Homo sapiens: one gene and its partners. The protein of the gene in region 3 interacts with the protein of the main gene of each other region in a pairwise test. Each region holds a gene or a part of one and is shown on either strand. Other genes may lie near its edges.

Evidence for each region. Proteins that work in one complex are often made in the same cells at the same time.
Region 1: the proteins of LHX3 (region 3) and TEX14 interact in binary tests that used the Homo sapiens proteins (3 or more experiments, as listed by UniProt).
Region 2: the proteins of LHX3 (region 3) and FAIM interact in binary tests that used the Homo sapiens proteins (3 or more experiments, as listed by UniProt).
Region 4: the proteins of LHX3 (region 3) and INSC interact in binary tests that used the Homo sapiens proteins (3 or more experiments, as listed by UniProt).

What each region holds. Positions count from the first base shown.
Region 1 is NC_000017.11:58,601,546-58,605,045, forward strand, and holds part of TEX14 (inactive serine/threonine-protein kinase TEX14), read right to left. Parts: coding exon 3,433-3,500; intron 1,046-3,432; coding exon 855-1,045; intron 412-854; coding exon 261-411; intron 1-260.
Region 2 is NC_000003.12:138,611,771-138,615,270, reverse strand, and holds part of FAIM (fas apoptotic inhibitory molecule 1), read right to left. Parts: intron 1-3,500. UniProt on the Homo sapiens protein: Plays a role as an inducible effector molecule that mediates Fas resistance produced by surface Ig engagement in B cells.
Region 3 is NC_000009.12:136,193,762-136,199,012, forward strand, and holds the end of LHX3 (LIM/homeobox protein Lhx3), read right to left. Parts: coding exon 5,147-5,251; intron 5,060-5,146; coding exon 4,891-5,059; intron 3,983-4,890; coding exon 3,564-3,982; 3' UTR 2,489-3,563; downstream 1-2,488. UniProt on the Homo sapiens protein: Transcription factor.
Region 4 is NC_000011.10:15,121,423-15,124,922, reverse strand, and holds part of INSC (protein inscuteable homolog), read right to left. Parts: intron 1-3,500. UniProt on the Homo sapiens protein: May function as an adapter linking the Par3 complex to the GPSM1/GPSM2 complex. Involved in spindle orientation during mitosis. May regulate cell proliferation and differentiation in the developing nervous system.

The sequences.
Region 1 (3,500 bases), on a different chromosome or scaffold from region 3:
TAGCCCAGCATGGTGGCACATGCCTGTAATCCCAGCTACTCAGGAGGCTGAGGCATGAGAATCACTTGAACCCAGGAAGTGGAGGTTGCAGTGAGCTGAGAGCATGCCACTGTACTCCAGTCTGGGCAATAGAGCTAGACTTTATCTCACAAAACAAACAAGTTACATCTACAGTTTAGAGGAGTCAATTAGTTGCAGCTCATGTGACTCTCAGAACACATTTGTGTCAAACTAACACAACCTGTGAATTAAGGCCATACCCATTTCCTTTAGTTCTATGATTTCCATGTCAGGTGTCTCTCTGGGGTGTTCTGAAGTCAGTCCTAGATAGACATTGACATCGGGATGGAGTCCGTATCTCTGCACTCTGGGGCTCTCGGTTGGTTGAGTTCTCTGGGCTCCAGTAAAATCCTGTAACACAGGAAATATTGTCAAGGACATAGTCTCAGTCATCCTGAATGTCACTGGTGCTTTAGAAACCATCTAAGTATCTGATAAACTCCCTCTTATTCCTGTTGGGTAGACTGACTTTAGTCCTAATTAACTAGTTTATTGTTATTGCCAATACCTTAAAAGCAATAATAATAGCTACCATTCACTGAATCTCCACTAAGTGCCTACAGGGTGCCCCTACTATGCATATGTGTTGAACCTCCCTAGCTCCCCTCCTCAATTCCATGCTGCTTTCACCAAGTTAAGCAGTTAGGCTATTATCAAGAACACAGAAATGGTGTAATAAAATGAGGATTTCCAAAATTTCTTACAACTTGGTCTCTAGCTTCATCTTGTCTCTAACTCCCTATTCTCCTGAGTTAGGTAAGCAGAAATAAACTCCCAACAACTTCAGGGCTTGCCTTTAAGTCATTCTTCAGAATATACCGGATATCTTGAAGGTTCATAGTTCGGTCTTTCTGCTTGACGTGGATGCCTGACTTAACAATATCATAGTAAGGTTTCGGAAGCCTGACATCAGCTTCTAAATAATTCCCCGAGACTACGGCTTTTTTAACAACTGAGCCATCTAAGCCCTTCCAGGGTATGTCATCTGTAAGGAAAAAGTCATACAAAAGAGTAAATTAGGAAACCAAAGAGTGGAGTGGGGGGAAAAGAAATCAGATGAAGCTGGGTAACCTTAGGCAAGTCACTTAACTTCTTTATTTTTTTTTCTAATCCACTGTACTTTAGAAACAATTCATTTCCTTATATATTAATTTCTCTCTGTAGAAAAACTACCCAGAGGGGCCGGGCGTGGTGGCTTACACCTGTAATCCCAGCACTTTGGGAGGCCGAGGCGGGTGGATCACAAGGTCAAGAGATCGAGACCGTCCTGGCCAACATGGTGAAATCCCCTCTCTACTAAAAATACAAAAATTAGCCAGGCGTGGTGGCGCACACCTGCAATCCCAGCCACTCAGGAGGCTAAGGCAGGAGAATCGCTTGAACCCGGGAGGCAGAGGTTGTAGTGAGCTGAGATTGCGCCACTGCACTCCAGCCTAGCAACAAAAACAGAAAACAAAAAAACAAAAAAAAACTACCTGGAAGGCCAATTCATAAGTGAGAAGCCACTTTACTCATTTACCAGAGAGATCACCGCCACAGAGATAGGAAACAATAGTGTCAGCAACATGTACACATGGGCTCCCCGCTGGCAGGGGAGCCCAATATTCATCTCATGTATATTGTCATTTTGCCTCTGGGACTGCAAACACCATAAAAAAGCAGCCCTTGGCCGGGCGTGGTGGCTCACGCCTGTAATCCTAGCACTTTGGGAGGCCGAGGTGGGTGGATCACCTGAGGTCAGAGGTTGAAACCAGCCTGGCCAACACAGTGAAATCCCATCCCTACTAAAAATACAAAAATTAGCTGGGTGTGGTGGCGAGCACATGTAATCTCAGCTACTCTGGGAGGCCGAGGCAGGAGAATCACTTGAACCCAGGAGGTGGAGGTTGCAGTGAGCTGAGATCGCGCCACTGCACTCCAGCCTGGGCAACAGAGTAAGACTCCATCTTAAAAAAAAAAAAAAAAAAAGCCTTGCACGTTGGCTCACGCCTGTAATCCCAGCACTTTAGGAGGCTGAGGTGGGCGGATCACGAGGTCAGGAGATCCAGACCATCCTGGCTAATACGGTGAAACCCCGTCTGTACTAAAAATAGAAAAAATTAGCCGGGCATGGTGGCACGCGCCTGTAGTCCCAGTTACTTGGGAGGCTGAGGCAGGAGAATCGCTTGAACCCGGGAGGCAGAAGTTGCAGTGAGCCAAGATCCCGCCACTGCACTTCAGCCTGGGCAACAGAGTGAGACTCTGTCAAAAAAAAAAAAAAGCAGCCCTTAATGTGATTTTACTGTGTGTGTGTGTGTGTGTGTGTGTGTGTGTGTGTGTGTGTGTGTGTGTGTGTGTGTGTCTTTCTTTTGAAGGATTCCTTCCATCTTCAGATATGTGACTACTTTCTCCACATCAGAGCAGTGGATTTGGAAGTACATCCATTTCTTTCAAGTGACACTGTTTATACATCTAATGGACACAGGGTGTGTTTCATAGTTTACTTCTCAGAGGCTAGTCTTTCCCCCTAATTTACAAGTTCTCAAGGGATACCACACATAGATCATAAGTACTGATACCAATATTCAGGTTAAAAAGTTTGCTTCGGCCGGGCGTGGTGGCTCACACCTGTAATCTCAGCACTTCAGGAGGCCGAGGTGGGTAGATCACAAGGTCAAGCGATCGAGACCAGCCTGGCCAATATGGTAAAACCCCGTCTCTACTAAAAATGCAAAAATCAGTTGGGCGTGGTGGTGTGCACCTGTAGTCCCAGCTACTCGGGAGGCTGAGGCAGAAGAATCGCTTGGACCCGGGAGGCAGAGGTTGCAGTAAACCGAGATCGAGCCACTGCACTCCAGCCTGGGTGTCAGAGCAAGACTCTGTCTCAAAAAAAATAAAAAATAAAAATAAAAATAAATTTTTTTAGTGTGGATTAAATGCATCATCACTGACAAGCAGATGGATGGGCTTTGCTGAGTCTTTTTTTTTTCTTTTGAGACAGAGTCTCACTCTGTCACCCAGGCTGGAGTGCAGTGGCGCTATCTCAGCTCACTGCAACCTCTGCCTCCCAGGTTCAAGTGATTTTCCTGCCTCAGCCTCCCAAGTAGCTGGGACTACAGGCACGTGCCACCACGCCCAGCTAATTTTTGTATTTTTAGTAGAGACAGGGTTTCACCATTTTGGCCAGGCTCGTCTTGAACTCCTGACTTCAGGTGATCCACCCGCCTCAGCCTCCCAAAGTGCTGGGATTACAGGCGTGAGCCACTGCTCCCAGCCAAGAAGTCTCTTTTTAATAAGTCTTCTATTTTCATAAAAGTCAGTAACTCCTGTGGGGGGAGAAAAATGCAACCTAAGAATAGGGACTTTGGTCAACCATTAATGATCTTGATCTACCTGTTAAAATCTCCTGCATGATCATAGAAAAGCTGTAGATGTCTGATTTCACTGTGGCTGCCTTCTGT
Region 2 (3,500 bases), on a different chromosome or scaffold from region 3:
AAGATGGTGCAAAAGAGATACGTGTTTGGTAGGAACCATACTTTGAGTACCCATACAACCATTCACTTTCACTACAGTACAAAAAATTACAGGAGACAGCCAAGACTTCATTGTAACATAGGCTTTGTGTTAGATGATTTTGCCCAAATGTGGGCTAAGGTAAGTATTCTGAGGACACTTAAGGTAGGCAAGGCTAAGACATGATGTTTGATAGGTTAGGTGTACTAAATCCATTTTCAACTTATAATATTTTCAACTTGCAATGGGTTTATTGGGATATAACCCCATCACAAGTCAAGAAGCATCTGTACATGTTTTTGTTTTTGTTTTGAGACAGGGTCTTGTTCTGCTGCCCAGGCTGGAGTGCAATGGTATATTCAATGCTCACTGCAGCCTCAACCTCCTGGGCCCAAAGGATCCTCCCACCTTAGCCTCCAAAGTAGCTGGGACTACAGGTACACACCACCACACCCGGCTCATTTTTGTATTTATGGTAGATATGAGGTTTCACCATGTTACCTAGGCTGGTCTTGAATTTGTGGGCTCAAGTAATCCACCTGACTTGGCCTCCCAAGGTGCTGAGATTACAGGCATGAGTCACCGCACCTGGTCGTACATGTCTTTTAAATTTTTCTATGGTTTTGTATGATTTGCAGCAGCTATGCTCTATTTGTTTTCTCAAGGGGAGATGTACCTTCACAACAAAAGTTTTCTTATGATAAATGTCCAGGCTTCAGTTTTTCCATTCAACATTTGAACCTGCTATCAAGAGATACTGTACTAGACGCTGTCAGAAATTTGAAGAAAATCCTTCTTTTTTTTTGTTTTTTGAGATAGGGTCTCACTCTAGTCATCCAGGCTGGAGTGCAGTGGTGCGATCTCAATTCACTGCAGCCTCGACCTCCTGGGCTCAAACAATCCTCCCACCTCAGCCTCCTTAGTAGCTGGGACCATAGGCATGTGCCACAACACCCAGCTAATTTTGTAATTTTTTGTGAAGATGAGGTTTCACCATGTTGCCCCAGCTGGTCTCAAACTCCTGAACTCAAGTGATCCTCCCACCTCGGCCACCCAAAGTGCTGGGATTACAGGCATAAGCCACCATGCCCAGCCTGAAGAAAATGTTTCTGTCCTTAAAGAATTTGAGAGTTCAGAAATAAATCCACATATCTGTGGCCAAATGATTTTTGACAAGGGTGCCAACTCTAACTGGTGGGGAAAGAATAGTCTCTTCAACAGATGTTATGGGGAAAACTAGATTTTCATACACAAGAGAATTAAGTTGAACCTCACCTATCTCACACCATATACAAAAGTTATCTCAATGATCTAAATGTAAGAGCTAAAACCACAAAACTCTTAGAAGAAAACATAGAGGTAAATCCTCATGATCTTGGATTTGGCAATGGATTCTTAGATAGGACACCAAAAGGATAGCAGCAAAAGAAAAAAATAGATAAATTGAACTTCATCAAAAGTTAAAACTGACTGGGTGTGGTGGCTCACACCCGCATTCCCAGCAATTTGGGAGGCCAAGGTGGGAGGATTGCTTGAGCCCAGGAGTTCAAGACCAGCCTGGGCAACATAGGGAGACCCCATCTCTACAAAAAAATTTAAAAACTAGCCAGGCATGGTGGTGCATGCCTGTAGTCCCAGCTACATGGGAGGCTGAAGTGGGAGGATCACTTAAGCCTGAGAGGTCAAGGCTGCAGGTGAGCTGTGATTGCACCACTGCACTCCACCCTTGGCAACAGAATAGACCCTGTCTCAAAAAAACAAAAACAAACTAAAATTTTTGTGCATCAAAGGACATTATCTAGAAAGTGAAAGGACAAGGATGAGAGAAAATATTTGGAAATCATATATCTGATAGAGGTTTCATATTCTGAATATATAAAGAACTCTACTGCTCATAAACACAAAAGACAACCCAATTTAAAAATGGGAAAGGGGCCGGGCGCAGTGGCTCACACCTGTAATCCCAGCAATTTGGGAGGCTGAGGCGGGTGGATCACCTGAGGTCAGGAGTCCGAGACCAGCCTGGCCAACATGGTGAAACCCCATTTCTACTAAAAATACAAAAAATTAGCCGAGTGTGGTGGCAGGCACCTGTAATCCCAGCTAGCTACTCGGGAGGCTGAGGCAGGAGAATCGCTTGAACCCAGGAGGCGGAGGCTGCAGTAAACCAAGATCATGCCATTGCACTCCAGCCTGGGCAACAAGAGCAAAAGCCTGTTTCCAGGAAAAAAAAAAAAAAAAGGCAAAGGACTTCCACAGACATTATTCTAAAGAAGACATACAAATGGTCAATAAGCACATGAAAAGATGCTAAACAACATTAATCACGACAGAAATGCAAATCAAAACAACAATGAAATACAACTTCACATCTACTAGGATGGCTATACTAAAAATAAACAGAAAATAATCAGTGTTGGCAAGGATGTGGAAAAACTGGAATCCTTGTACATTGCTAGTGGGACTGTAAAATGGTGAAGTTGTCATACAAAATGATATGACAGTTCCTCAAAACCTAAACAGAGAATTACTATATGACCTAGCAATTCTGCTGCTAGGAATGCACTCAAAAAGTTTTGAAATCAGCCACTCAGACACCTGTATACTATTGTTCATTGTAGCATTTTCCAATAGCCAAAAGATGAAAACAACCCAAGTTGTCCATCAACATAAGAATAAACAAAACGCGGTACATACACTTGATCTCGGCCAAAAGGCTGAGAAGTGATAAAATGCATATATATACAAAGGATATTCCTTTTCATTCAGCCAAAATAAGGAGTGATATTCTGACATATGCTATAACATGGATGAACTATGAAAACTTTATGCTAAGTGAAATAGCCAGACAAGGCCGGGCGCGGTGACTCACGCCTGTAATCCCAGCACTTTGGGAGGCCGAGGCGGGCGGATCACGAGGTCAGGAGTTCGAGACCATCCTGGCTAACACGGTGAAACCCCGTCTCTACTAAAACTACAAAAAAATTAGCCAGGCGTGGTGGCGGGCGCCTGTAGTCCCAGCTACTCAAGAGGCCGAGGCAGGAGAATGGCGTGAACCCGGGAGGCGGAGCTTGCAGTGAGCTGAGATCGCACCACTGCACTCCAGCCTGGGTGACAGAGCGAGACTCCGTCTCAAAAAAAAAAAAAAAAAAAAAATAGCCAGACAAAAAATGACAAATATGATTCCACTTATATAAAATACCCAGAAAAGGGACATTCGTAGAGGCAGAAAGCAGATTAGATGTTCCCTGGGAATGGGGGAAGGGAACAATGAGAAGTCTCAGTCTCTTTCATGCTGCTACAAAGGAATACCCGAGGTTGCATAATTTATAAAGAAAAAAGGTTTATTTAGCTCATGATTCTGATGTCTGGAGAAGCTCAAGATTGGGCATCTGCATTTGGTGAGGGCCTCAAGTTGCTTCTACTCATGGCAGAAGGCAAAGGAGAGCTGGCTGTGTAGAGAGCATGTGACCAGAGAGAAA
Region 3 (5,251 bases):
AAGGTCCCGGGCGGCCTGGGGGAGGGGCCGGAGGCCGGGGCGGGGTGGGGGCGCGGCTGGGGGATTTGCGCCCCCTCCTCGGGGCTGCCCCCCGCCAGCCCGCGCTGCACCCCGGCGGCCGCGCCCCCTCCCTAAATTCCGCCTTCGACCTGGGCCCGGAGCCGCTTTCCCCGCGGGCTGCCCGTTGCCCCCGGAGAGTTCGGGGTCGTCCCTCCAGCGCCCGTCCCTGGCCGCGGGGCCGCTGGCTGGAGTCTCTGCCCTGGGGACACCGACTCCGCAGGCCGGCCCCGAACCTCGCACTTTCCCGCCGGCGCGCCTTTGCCCGCACTGGTCGCCGTCGCCACGCGCCATCCTCGCGTCCAACCCCATCTGCTTCCACGCTCGGCTCCAGTGTTGCCGCCATTCCCAGTGGCCGTCGGGGCCCTTCTCCCCTCCCGGGACCGCCCTGGTGATCCGCGCGTCTCTGCGCTTCCCAGGGGTGCTCGGTGCCTCCTTAGACACAGCGTGGCTGCCAGAGCCTGGGGGTCGAAGGCCATGCGCCACAGGGAGGGAGGGAGGGCGGGTGGGGCTTGGGAGGACCCGACAGAAACCCCGTTGACCGCCTGGTCAGCACCCCTCCTTCCCCACAGCGGGGGTTGGGGGGTGGGGGGACCCAGGCCAGGACAGGTCCTTTCCTCCTCTGGGCCTCAGTCTCCCCACAGGCAGAGGCCGCTGGGCGGAGCACAGCCAATTCTAGAAATGTTCATGGAATGAACAGGTCCAGGAGCCTGCCAGAGCCCCTGCCCGGTTTAGCCCTGCAGACCTGGGGTCTGTGGGCGCCTAGAGGTCAGCAGAGGTCAGGGTCAGGGCAGACTGGACATCAGACCTTCTCCCGGTGATGTTCCTCAGAGGTCCTTTGCCCCAGCCCCATCACTCCCAGTCCCCAGGGTTGCCCAAGCCTGCATGGCTGAGGACAGTCTCCCGCTCTTTTCTCCCAAGCTGCCCTCCCCTCTTCCCCCTCTTCCCTCCCCTTCCCCTTCTTCCCTCCTCTCTCCTCCCTCCCCACTCTTCCCTCCCCTCCCCTTCTCCATCTTCCCTCCCCTCTCCTCCCTTCCCTCCCCTTTCCTGGGCCTTAGCTTTCTCTTCTGTGAGATTGAGAGGAGAGGCCGCTGTGGGACTCAGAAGAGGATGTGCCTGACACACATCCCGAAACGATGAAAAGGACGTCCCTTAAAAGACAACTGTTCCCTTGGCCAGGTGCGGTGGCTCACACCTGTAATCCCAGCACTTTTGGAGGCCAAGGCGGGTGGATCACCTGAGGTCAGGAGTTCGAGGCTAGCCTGGCCAACATGGTGAAACCTTGTCTCTACTAAAAATACAAAACTGGGAATGGTGCTGCGCGCCTGTAATCCCAGCTACTTGGGAGGCTGAGGCAAGAGAATCGCTTGAACCCAGGAGGCGGAGGTTGTGGTGAGCGGAGATCACGCCATTGCACTCCAGCCTGGGCAACAAGAGCAAAACTCCATTTAAAAAAAAACCACACAACTGGTCCCAACCAGTTCCCCCCAAAAGATGGCTGGTCCTGGAGAGACTTGGAAGTCTGCAGCTCAGAGCAGCTTCCCTTGGCCACATTCTGGAGGGGCCTCCGCACCCTTACTGGGGGAACTGAGGCCAGTGCAAAGGTCCCCATGAAAGGCATGGGGACTCCTCCACCTTCCCTCCCCGTCCACTGAGAAATAGGGAGCCCAGGCTCCAAGGGGCCTCCTCCCTCCAGCCCCCACTCTGCTCCAGGGAGACCCCCTCAGAGGAAGAGACCCTCAGGGAGGAGGCCCAGCCCTCCTTCCTGCAGGAGGGAAGGCCGAGGTGGAAGGGCCAACCCTGCCTGCTTCTACCACTGCCCCTATAGGAGCACTTACCTGGGGGTGGGGGTGGGGCGCATACAACTTCTTTCTGCCCTCTGAGGGGACTGTCATCACTGTCTTCTCTTTACGGCGGCGGCGGGGTTGGGGGGGTTGGGGGGTGGGGACGGGGAAGCAGGGCTCAGAGGGTTCCAGCCCCCAGCCCAGGGTCACACAGCAAGTTAGAAGAGCCAGGATTGGAATCCAAGCTGGAGAGACTTCCATGACCATGAGCCTGGTCACCCTACCAGCCTATGTCCTGGGGTTGGTGCCAGCTGCAAGCTGTGAATGGCACACACGGCCCACCTCCCACCCCCATCATGCTCTCTGGACATCCCAACCCCTGCCTCTCCCAGGGACAGGGTGTGGAGACCGCAACCCCTCCCCTCCATCAGGAAGGGATGGGCTGTTCCCCCCACCTCCTTCCAGTGCTCATGAGCATGGCCAAGATCCAGGGATAAAGAGAGCCCAAATTCATACTAGGTGCCAGCCCAAGCAACGAACTAGGGGGACTCAGGGCCCCTCCAGGGCTGCCTCTCAACATTCACAGAATGTTCCCCACACCCAACACTCCCCAACCCCCGCAGCCTCAAAAAAACGCGGGCCTTCCATTGACTGTAACTGACAAATTTATTGAAGTCTTGGAAAGAGCTGATCACCCGAGAATAAATAAAAGACACAGAACATTCACAGAACCAATAGGTAGCTCGAGATTCAGGTTTGCGGGAGTGACTTTGACTTACACACAGGCCAGCCTTTGTGTCTGGGGCACGCACAGCTGCGGGCATCTCCCAGAAACTTCTTCCCAAAGGATCTGATGGAGGAGGCAGGGCAGGCTCAGAGGAGCCCCACCCTTCTCCAGCGGGGAGACTTCCCAATCTGGGGCTGGCAGAGCCGGCTCCGGCAGGGAGGGCAGGCTGTTTGGCAACAGACATCTGTGGGTGCAGCCTGGACACCAAGGGCCTGGGGTGGGGTGAGGAGGAGACCCTGAGGGGCTTAGAGAATTGAGCTTGGAGAGAAGGGGCGCCAGGCATTTTTGCCTCCTCCACAGGATACTCGAGAACAGAATGATCTAGAGACCTGGGGATTGGGGAAAGCTTCTCCCGGGGAAGGTGGGGCTGGAGGCAGAGAGGCCCCCTGTGGTCTGGGGAGAGGAGGGGGCCTCTCCCGGAGGACACAGGTGTGTCCCCGCCTCTGCAGCCTCTTGCCTCGACAGGCAAGGCCAATCTCCGACCTAAAGAGGGAGCCTCGGGGTGACGGCTCCAAGACACATGGAGCCTGGGAAGTGAAAGCACAATTATGATGATTTCTCAGTTTTAGAGATGAAAGCGTTTTTCCAGCCCTCGGGCTATGCTGGGCTGGGCTGGGCCTCAGCAAGGTGACATTTCATGTCTAGAAATAGCAGCAAGTGCTCAGTTAATTGGTCAATAAAGGGGAGAAATTTGCTTACAAAAAAGGCTGGCTTGCTGGGAGGCCACCTGGCGGGCCAGCCCTGTGTCAGAGGAGGGGCCAGGTGGGTCCCTCAGCCCCCAGAGAGGGAGCTGTGCGGTCGGCAGTGGGAGGCTCCGAAGGCACCAGCCCTCCCTTGACGCCCTGGCCCCACTTCCTCGGAAACCCCAGCAGCCCCGAGCCGCCCACCCAGGGGCAGCTCCCTCGTGTGAGGTGCAGGGTGGAGCCGGGCCTGGGTCAGAACTGAGCGTGGTCTACCTCATCCAGCCAGGAGGCGGGGCTGGCAGGGAAGTCGGGGTAACCCCCGCTGCTCCCCGTGGATAGGTCAGAACTGGGTCCGTTCCCTGCCAGCACCCTCATGGGTGGGGGCCCGCCGGGGGCTCCCGAGGGCACAAGGCCCAAGCTGGTGTCTGGGTACACCAGGCTGGAGAGGAGGGGCTGGGGGCCAGGGAGGCTCTGCGGGGCGGCGGGGGATGGGGGGACACCGTAGGGGCTGCCGGGACGCAGCTCTCGGTACTGCTCTGGGCCTGCCAGGCCTCCATGCTCCAGGGAGAAGTTGCCCAGGGCTCCCGAGGGCCGGCCCAAGGCCTGGGTGGGTTCCCCCAAGCTCCCGTAGAGGCCATTGGCCGGGCCCATTTCCGCCAAGGAAGGCTCATCTGCAACAGAAGCAGAGGCTCAGTCAGCGCCTGCCCTCCACCTGCGGCCCCTCAGAGTCCCATCCTGCAGGCGGAGGCACCCCTGGGTCGGAGAAAGAGTGGCTGCCCCACACCACATGACAGGTCATAACAGGCCCCTTCTACTGTTGGAGCATGGCTGCCCCTGCCCCTCCACTGCCCTCACCCCTGAGTCAGCCCAGGTGTCTCAGGCCTGGTGGGATCAGAGTCAGGAACAGCCCAGCCAGGGCCCAGGCTTTCAGGACCAGCCCCACAGCAGCCTAGGAAGGGGGCACAGATACCACCACCCACATTTTGCAGACAAGGATATTTAGTTCCAGAGTGGCTGAGTGAGTAGCCCGGGTCACGAGGCAGCCCAAAAGAGAGTGTCTTGTCCACATTCTGAGGATGGGCATCAACAGATGGGGACGCAGCATCCCCGGTGCCCGGAGAATGAAATAAATAATCCAGGCCCCACAGAAGGGTATGGAACCTTCTCTCCCTGACCCCAGGTAGCCCCCTCCCCCAACTCCAAGCAGCTGGGACTTCGACTCAGTCTTTCCCGAAATGCACTGCCCATTCTCCTAAAAATCACTGCAAGGGCTAGGAGCCAGAGAGACGGCCTGGACACGCCCACCCCCCCATGAGAAAGCCCGTAGGCGCCCAGCTTGGGGACAGGTCGGGCCACAGGGATTGTGTCCCCACCAGGGGAAAAGCAGTGGTCCGGAGTGGCCACCCAGGGCGGGGAGGGTGCTGGGGGAGCAGGTTCTGTAAGTGAAATGCTTTTGAAAGTAGAACTTAAGGAGTCCACTAACTCCATGGGAAATTCAGATCCGCGGGCTCCCTGGGACCCCTGCGACCCCGCCGACGCGCGCTCGTCCCCCCCCGAGCTCCGCGATCCCTCCGCCTACCGGGGAAGGAGACCTCAGCGTCGCTGTCCTGCCCCTCCTGAACGCTGTCCTTGTCCGACTTGGAGCCGCCGCGGGAGCGCTTCATGTTGCGGAAATACTGCCCCCAGCGCTGCCGGCCGGCGTCCTTCTTCAGCCTCTTCTCCTTGGCCCGGCGGTTCTGGAACCAAACCTGGGGGCGGGGCGGGGTGAGCGGCCGCCCGGCTCTGCGGGGGCCCCCAAGGCCGCGGGCGGGAGGGAAGCAGGGGCGAGCGCTGACCTGCACCACGCGCATGTCCAGGCCCGTCTCGGACGAGAGCTGCTCGCGCACGTGGCGCGCCGGCTTGGGCGAGGTGTTGTAAGCGCTCTTCAGCGTCTCCAGCTG
Region 4 (3,500 bases), on a different chromosome or scaffold from region 3:
TACTAGGTAGGTGCTAAGTAGATAAATGAATGAATTCGTGAGGGAGGGAATGAGCAAATGAGTCTGTAACTTAGACCCTTGCAACCTTCAGGCATTTTTCCAAGATGCTGTTATCTAATGTGGCTGTCATTGTCCTATGCCTGCTCAATTCCAGCCCTGTCAGCCGCCAAAGCAGATGGACAGCACACATTCTAGGGAGCTCTTTGTAAATGACAAGCCTAAGAGAACTGAAAGAACAGCTTCTATGGGGATGGGGCCAGGATTAGTCTACTGCCTGGTTTCTAAATGCCACATTTTAAAATCCTACTCTCCCACCCTCCCCCAGCCTCTCTGCAAATTCCACAGGGCCAAAGTGCAATCATAGTCTAAAATGAAGAAGAAAACAAAAGCATCACCTTTTCCACCATAGGGCTCATGGGGAGCTGTGTTCCTATTTCCCCTTAAGGCCAGAGCCCCCTAACACCTCTGCAAAGCCCAGTCTATCTTATATCTACCTGAATAAGGAGCCTAATCTCTAATTTCTCATCACCAATGAAAGAGGGGAAGCCAGAAAAGCAGATAGTGAGCCAAGAGGAGTAATCAGTGTGGCCACTTCTGGTCTCCCATTCTTCCTGCTGACACCCTGCAATCATACCCAGCCCAGCCCTAGACCAGCACAGTGACATCTCCCCAACCCCTGACAGTCTCCTCACCTGGGATTCTGAGCTGTGAGGACCATAGAAAAGAGGGATACAGGAGTGGGGCTGAAGATAATGCATTAGCCTTGAGTCCTGCTATAAATCCAACATAAACTCTTGTTCACGGATGGATAGCTGGGTGACAGATGGGTGTGTGGGTGAATGAACAAGAGGAGATAGAAAGTTGAATGAGTGAGTGAGGAATGTAAGAGTAAGTGAGTCAGAGGGATGGAATGGGCTGTTCTGTCCTAGTGCTGATGACATCTTTGAAAGGATGGCTCACTGGACTTAGTAAGACCCACTTTCTGTATTCTCCTTTAAGCATATGTCTAGTGCAGTGTTAGAGGTAGGAAGGAGGTTGACAGCTCCTGACAAATGTGAATCATTTGTTCCAAGGAGTCTTCCATAGAATTGTAAAGATATTTTATACAAGTCCCCAAGGAGCCAAGTCAGGACCACCTGGGAACCCCTTCTATCTCCTGTATGGTCTACAAACCAGAGATAAGGATAGATAGAGAAGCCACAGCTCAGGGATGCCACTTGTGACTTAGCCATCTCCTCCAGGGACCTTCTTAGAATCATCCGGGAATTAGATGTACCTGTCACCAGCCTCCCAAAAGCTCCTTAGTGACATCTTAATTTGTACAGAAGATGGTAAGGTCTCTGAGGGACAGACATGGTTGGCAGGCACCCCAAATGCCAGGTGTCCCAAAATGAATGATCATTTTCCTCCTCAAATCTACTTCTCTTCTCATTTTTATTCCACTGAATGGTTCCATCATCTATCTGGTTACTCAGATGATAAATCTTCATTCATTCATTTGTTCAACATATATTTGTGGCATGTGTCAGTAACATGGTACCATGATACCTGCTAGGATAAAGTAACGAGCAAAACCAGACATGGTTCCAACACTCACAGAGCTCATCATCATATAGAGAAAGTAAGCATTAATGATTACATAAATAAATGTAAAATTGAAACTATGATAAAGGCTTGAAGGAGGCACATGTTTTAAAACTTTATAAAATGGGGTTGGACCTGGTCCTGAAGATTATGAAAGTGACAACTCAGCTGAGAACTGAGAGTAAAGCAGGAATTCGGTAGGTGGAGTCAGGAAGAACGAGCATTCTAAGCAGAGGAACAGCAAATACAAAGATTTATGGTGGGAGGGAGCCTAACAAGCCCTAGAGACTGAGACTCAGCTGAGGCCAGTGTGGCAGGGAGAGCCAGGGAGGGAGTGCTGGGTAGGGAGATGTAGGAGAGGGCAGCAGGGCCAGGCAAGCAAGACCTTGTAGGACTTATTAAGGAGTGTGGTCTTTATCTTAAGATCAATAGGAGGCAACTAATGTACTTTTAAGGAAGAAAATGATATGAACAGAGTTGTGTTTTGAAATGCGCTCTGGCTGCTGTGTGGAGAACAAATTGGAGGGGAGCCAGTGTGGATATAAGGGTACCAGGGGGCTCTTGTGGTACCCCAGAAATGTGAAGATGGTACCATGAACTAGGATGATGCTGGTGGAGATGGAAAGAAGTGAAAGATTTGAGAGATATTTACAAGCTAATATCAACAAGATATGGGGACGGATTGGATATGGGTTTTGAGGGAGAGAGGTGTTGAGGATGACTGCCAGGTCTGTCTGCCTTGTGCAGCTACCCAGACGAAGGAGTCATTCAACGAAATCTAAAATACCTGAAGAGGACCAGGTTTCAGTAGGATGAAGAACTACAGAAATTCTGTTTTGGACACATTGAGTTTGAGAGGCCTTTGAGGCATCAAACTGGGAGTCACTTAGACTCCTTCATCTCCCTCACTTTCTGCATTCACCGGTCACTGTGTCCTATTGATTCTACCTCCTCTTCATTCGAACTTAGTTCAGGCCCTGGTAATTACTGTATGAATAATTAAAACAATCTCCAGGCTCTTTCTTCTTCCAATCCATTCACCCACCTCATGCTGTCTGTCTAAATATTGCCTCCTGAAAGAGGCCATTTCTAACCACCCAATCTAAAGTATTCCTACCCCATTACTCTCTATCACAGTCTTTGGGGTTTTTTCTTCTAAAAACATGTAACAATGTATTGTATTGGTTGATTGGAGAAATAAATATACATATATGTCCTAACTCTGTTTGCTAAGAGAGCATATAAACGATGACACACCAATCACAAGGAGCACAGGTAGCCTTTAAATCTTGGTTTCTAAATACCATTTTCGACTAAAAGGATCCAGGGCTCTTCAGACAAATGGCTAATTCCAGGGCTGTAGCAAAGTAAGGAAACTAAGCCTGTAACTTCTTGCTATAGTAAATAGTAAGGAAGAGCACAGAGAATCATGGAGATGCATCAAAAACAAAGAAAGCCAGCTTGCAGAGCCTCCCACTAATCAAGTTTGGGACAATGTGAACATTGAGATAAAATAAAGATAATAATTGACTATAACCCATTGAATAAATGAAGAATTCATGAGACCCTAGTGATAGGAAGGGAGGGAGTGGGGAAAAGATTTTTTTAAAGTAGAATGCCAACTACTAAATACGGAAGAAATAATTGATTCAAAATGATCAACGATGATAAAATCAGTGGGTATAAGTTTGATAAGGAACAGGTTATACACAGTCTCAAAGTATCTCACTACAAATTACTTATTAATTCCAGAGAGAAAAAATAATAATTTTGCAGTGGAGAAACTGGCAGACATTATTCTTAAGCAAGTGATAAAAGCTCCCATCACCAGCACTGGGACAATCCCCACATCATGTGCTTGCTGATATGAAAACTGGAGAGGACATAACCTCACTGCAGTTGTATTCCTGCCCCTA